2 separate regions of the Homo sapiens genome follow, and region 2 is linked to region 1. Evidence: fine-mapped expression QTL. Tissue or cell type: pancreas. Region 1 holds a variant in brackets; the other region holds the start of a gene. All regions are shown on one strand. Distances are between the middles of the regions.

Region 1 (2,678 bases):
CCCTACTGGAGCCCAACACTTTAACCTGAAGTTGGGACATGGTGACAACCCTGGTGGCCCCTCCTTGGGGTGGGATGAGACCTATTTCCTGCCCCGCCCCCCGCTGGGTTAGAGGATCCCCCACAGCCACAGCCCTGCCTCCGCACTGTGCTCTGGCTACGATGTCCCAGCGAATGTCCTGCTCAACTCCAGAAATCCCCAGGGAATGACGAAGGCTCCTGGACACAGAGGCTTTGTCTGGAGCTGTCACCCTTTGGGTGTGGTGGGGGTAGCCAGACATTACTAAGCATCTAGGAAAAGGCAATCATCTAAAATCAGAAAAGAACCCCTCTTTTCAGAAGTCAAAATTTTTGCAAGCCAGGACTGTATTTCCCAAAAGCACAATTCAACAAATGGTTTGATATCAACTCTTATGTATATCAGCAACTCCAGAAAATAGGTCTTGGACCCTCAGTTGCAGATCTCTGAGTGTGTGCTAATTTTGGTGGGGGTTGGTAACATGATAGATCCTGAAGTTGAAATTACTCCAGATCACTTGGGGTCCAGAGCCAGGGAGCTAGGTCTTTCACTCCCGTCTCTCAGTGAAGCATTTGCAGTGGGTTCCTCTGCTCATGTCTTAAATGTGCAAGAATCAGACATATGGGAATGACTCAGCTCAGCCCCGACCCCAAGCACCTGAGGCCCGGCAGCTGCCCTGGAGGAGTGATTCTGTGATTAGCAGAAGAAAGCTGATGTGCCGCTTCTGGCTGTGGGTGACTATGCTGGGCTCAGGCAATTGTAGACAGCTGGAAGAAAATATGTTTCCCTACCCTGGGCAGGAAAGACTCTGGAAGCCTCCTTGCAGGGACGCCGCAGCCGTGTGTTGGTTCTGACTGGTACTGGGGTGGGAGGGAGACGCCTGGATCAGGGGCTTCAAGCCATTCTTCTCCTTCAAGGCAAACAGACAGACGCTTGACGGCAGGGCACCCTCTGGGCTGGGCAGCCTCAAATTTAGGTCCGGGGCGGGACTGTTTTGAGAAGCAGGATCCTGCAGAGGCATGGAGGAGGGGTATGTGATGGGATGGGGTGGGTTCCCTGCGAGGATGCGGAGGGGTGCTGCTTCATCATGCACCTGCGCGGGGCTCAGGGGAGCAGTGCTGATTGAATCTGGCCGTGGTGCTCCCTCTTTGCTAGGAAATGCACAGCTCTGAGCTTTATTTAGCAATGGACC[A/G]TTGTGCAGAGATAAAGAGCGTGCCAGACACATCAGTGCAATGGTGTCTCCTTCGCTGGCCACAGGGAACAAGCCCCTGATAAGCCGATCAGTCTTCTGATGGTGACTCCCTGTATCCTCAGCAACGGAGCCAGACACCTAGGTTATCATGCTTCTTCCCCTTGAGGCAGCGTGAGGGCGACATCCTCAGCCTCCGTTGAGGAGGCAAGGGGGCCAGGCATGGGTAACCAGCTTCTCTTTGTCTCCGGGGTTTAAAGGGAGTCTAAGCATCCCTGGTGTGAACCCACCATTGGCACCATCACCCTGGGCCCCTTTACCATCCTTGAGGGCTGTGGCCAAAGACCTGGAGCCCATGGGGTTGGAGCCCAGAGAGGACATGGTTAAGGGAGTCTGCACCTTTCTTACTGTATGGCCAGGTTCATTCCCCTCACAAATACAGTGTGCACACAGTGTGCACAAACATATGCACTCCCACACCCACGCGCGAGTGCACAGGGGCACACATGCATACTCACGTATACGTAGCCTGTATACACATAAATGCAAATATACACATACGTGCATACACCTACATATGTGCATATACAGAGACACACGCATGTGCACACACTTATGTGTGTACATACATGAACACACCTGCGCACACCCACATGTGTGTGCACACAGACATGTATGCATGCACCTCTGCATCACAGCGTGCGCGCGCACACACACACACACACACACACACGGCTCATGATGTCTGAGCAGTTGGGCTCCAGAGTCCAGCTCCTGAGTCTCCCCCTGGTTCTGCCCTGGTGCATCTTTCTGGCAGGTTCCTTCACGTCTGTACATCTGTGTTTTATTCTTTAAAATAGCAACAATCATCCTACGTACCTGAAAGGATTGCCATAAGGATAAGATGCGTAGGGGCATCTAGAGCCTTAAAACACCCCCTGGCACACAGTAGGTACTCTAGAAATGCCAGCTAGTGCCAGTTCTCATGCGGAGGGAAACGCATTCTCAGATGTGGTCTCCCAATCCCCACGCTCTCCTGTGAAGCCACACCAGATATGCCCACCTTCCCGAAGATGCAAGATGTGCCCCCTTTTCTGAAAATGTCAGATGCCCCCGCCTTTCTGAAGATGCTGGCTTCCTACCTGGCGCCTCCCTCTTGTTCCATTCCCGTCTTCAGCCTCAGGGACGCCAGCAAGAGAATGAATTGGAAGCTTATGGGGGTGGACGGATGCTCCTTTGACAAGCTGCAAACCCCAGGCCTGAGGGTTCTCCAGAGCCCGGCTTCACCAATTACCCAAGGGGAAGGAGCTCTCTGCCACAGACCAACACTTCTTAAAACATTTTTGAAAACATTAATCCCTAGATAAGTGAAATACAAGTCCGCATACAAGTAGTCATACAAAAGATAACCTCCAGTTTTTATTATTGGATTCAAAGGCACTCACTGCCAAATGGCTATAAGAGTTTCTAG
Region 2 (2,678 bases), 740 kb before region 1:
GGCCACACAACTCGGCCAGGACCCCGAGTTAGCAAGCGCTGGCCCCTGGTCCAGCCACGGCAAGGCTGGCCCTCCTGCCACCACACTTCCCTGCCTCTGGCCCTCTGCCGGGAGTCTTGGTGGGGAAGTCACTGTCTTCATCCTCCTGCCCGGGCAGAGTCCAATCCTGTGCCTGGCTCCTCAAGACCGTTGGCAAAGATCCTGGAGGCCTGGGGGTGAAAGGGCTGCTTGGGGGACTTAAGCCCCAAGCTATGGTTCGCCTGGGAGACTGAGCCCCAAGCCATGGTCCTCCTGGCTCTGCCCTTCCACCCCCTCACTGGCTGCCCCTCCCAGGGAGGCCTCACCTGTGAAGTGCTTCCCGCCCCTCTCACCCCCCACGGCTCTCACATGGCCTGGGGCGATTCCAGAGCTGGCCTGGGTCAAGCACCTGCACAGAGCACAGAGCGAAGGCTCGGCATGGTATATCCCCCGCCCCTTGCACCTTTCCCCAGTGAAGGGTGGCACCAGTGTCCTTTCCAAGGCCCGGATTCTGCACTGCCCTCAGCCTGTGGAGGATTAAAAGCAGGGTTTTGCCGTGGTTTCTCAAGGCGTCAGCGGGTCTGCAGAGGATTCCGCCCCATGTCACTTCTCTCAGTGAAAGGTCCCCGCCCAGCGTCTGTCCTCCTTTAAGTGCCCCCCATTTGTTTTTTGTTGTTGTTTTTGTTTGTTTTTTGCAAATACAGACTAACCAGGTAGGCACAGAGGAGTCCTGGCATGGGAAGGGAGCAGTGAAACGCCGGTGGAGAGTCCGGGAGGCCCAGATTCCCTGGAACTTTCCAGTGACTCCTCCGGAGCAAGGGCCTGGCCAGGCAGCAGCTGCGCTGGGCGATGAGGGACCGTTGGGTAATTGGGGGCATAGGACCGGGCTTCGCTGGGTTCGGGGCAGAAGCGCCGAAGCTCCGACCCGGAACGCGGTGACTTCATCAACGCAGAAGCCCGCGCAGCCGAGCAGAGGAGTCCCTCGTAGGCGACCCTCGGACAGACGCTCCTGCGCGGCCCGCGTGGCTCAGCTCCGCCCCAGGAAACTTTTCGCGCAGCCCCCGCTCCATGCGCCCCCACCCAGTCCTTCTTCGGGGCCGCCCCCTCCCCAAAGTAGCTCTCCGGGTCCACTGGGCGCCCCCGTAACCGGGTCGGAACCTCGAACGGCTTCGCGTGCCATCCGGTTACCCTGGCAACACCATCCGGCGGCGCCCGGCGGTCCAATCCTAGCCTGCGGCCTCTCTCGAGCCTTTCGCAAGGTGGGGACCGGGACGCGACCGGGGATGGGGAAGGGGGCTGCAGGAGGCCCCGCCTGCGCTGTCGCCCCTGCTGGGCACAGCGCCCCCCACCACCCGCGGCGACCCCGGCCCCCGCAAGGTGGGGCGGCGAGCAGGAGCCGGGGCCAGGCCAGGGGCTCGAGCTCCCGTTCGAGGGGCGGGGAAGGCGGGTGACGTGAGCCGGGCCGGGCGGGCGGAGTTGGGACCGGCTCCGGGAGGCGGGGGCGAGCGCGCGGAGAGGCAGACGCGAGGAGGGAGGCGGCTGAGCAGCGCGGGCGGCTCTGCGGCGGGCGCGGTGGGCGCGGGCGGCGGGGCCCCGGGATCCCCGCGCGCCTCCTCCGCGCGGCGCCGCCGCCGCGCGTCCCCACGCCCCGCGCTCCACGGCGCCCTCGCCCCGCGCGCCTCTCGTGCCCGCCTCCTGCCAGTCTCCGGGCCGCGGCCGTCTGCAGAGCGAGCGCTCAGACGGAGCCCCCGGGCAACTTGAGTGGCGCCGATCGGCGGCGGAGCCTCTGGCAGAGCCCCCCGACCCGGCAGCGCGGAGGGGACTCGCGTCCGTCCGCGTCGCGTCACCCCAAACCCTAAGCAGCGCCGCCCCATCGGCGCGGAGCTCCGGCTGGAGGCAAGAGCCGCGCGCCGGGAGACACGCACCGTGAGCGGCAGCGCCGCCGGCCTCCCTCCTCGCCGCCCCGGAGGGCGAAGCCGCGGCTCCCCAGCCCTTTGCTGCGCCGCGACAGCGCCGGAACACGCCCCGCCTCGCTGCCGCCTTCGCTGTGCCGCCGGCGGAGGGGGCCGCGAGCCCCGCGCCCCGGCCGGAGGATGTGCGCCCCCGCGGGCCGCCCAGCCTGAGCCATGCGCCCCAACGGCGGCGGCGCGCCGGCCGGCATGGAGCCCCGCGCGGCCGCGCTCTGACTCGCTGTGCGCCCCGCGGCCGGCGGGCGGCGGGAGGCGGCGGACCGAGAGCCGGAGACCGGCGCCGCGGGACGGAAGCGAGCGGGCGCGGGCGCCGCGCAGATGGCCTGGGCGAGCCAGGTCTGAGGCCCCGCTCCCCGAAACGTGACCATGTGGATTCAACAGCTTTTAGGACTCAGGTGAGCGACCCGGCCGGCGCCGGGTGCGTGTGGGCGCGTGGGTGCCAGGCTGGGCGGAAGCGGCGCTTTCCTCTATGTTGCAAATCAAGGGACCCCTCTTCGCTTCCCGCAAGCGGGCAACGGGGTGCACCGGTAGCCGGAAAGGGGCGCCCGCCCGGAGCCTGGAGCAGCACCGCGGCCCTGGCGGGGAGCGGCCGGGTCTCCAGGGTTCCGCGCGTCCGGGGTCGGGGCAGCGGCGCCCGCCCCAGCAACCCGGGAAGTGGGGCCGGCCAGGCGCGCCCGCAGCTCTAGGAGC

Which allele goes with the higher level. Positions count from the first base shown, and alleles are read on the strand shown. Sizes are in standard deviations (SD) of each study's normalised expression.
In carriers of allele G in region 1, the expression in pancreas of the gene that starts at base 1,538 in region 2 tends to be lower than with A alone (small effect, 0.36 SD a copy in GTEx).

Evidence for each region. PIP is the estimated chance that this variant, and not a neighbour inherited with it, causes the effect.
Region 2: it holds the start of AJAP1, and the variant in region 1 is fine-mapped to the expression of AJAP1 in pancreas (GTEx, PIP 0.90).

The regions. Positions count from the first base shown.
Region 1 is chr1:5,390,025-5,392,702 of GRCh38, forward strand. No RefSeq gene overlaps it. Among named protein-coding and RNA genes, the nearest start is that of LINC02782, 290 kb to the left of the region's middle. The variant A/G (reference allele first, on the strand shown) is at 1,211.
Region 2 is chr1:4,653,072-4,655,749 of GRCh38, forward strand. AJAP1 (adherens junctions associated protein 1) reads left to right here and starts at 1,538. Exons shown (of 6, transcript NM_018836.4): 1 at 1,538-2,383. The coding sequence starts at 2,355.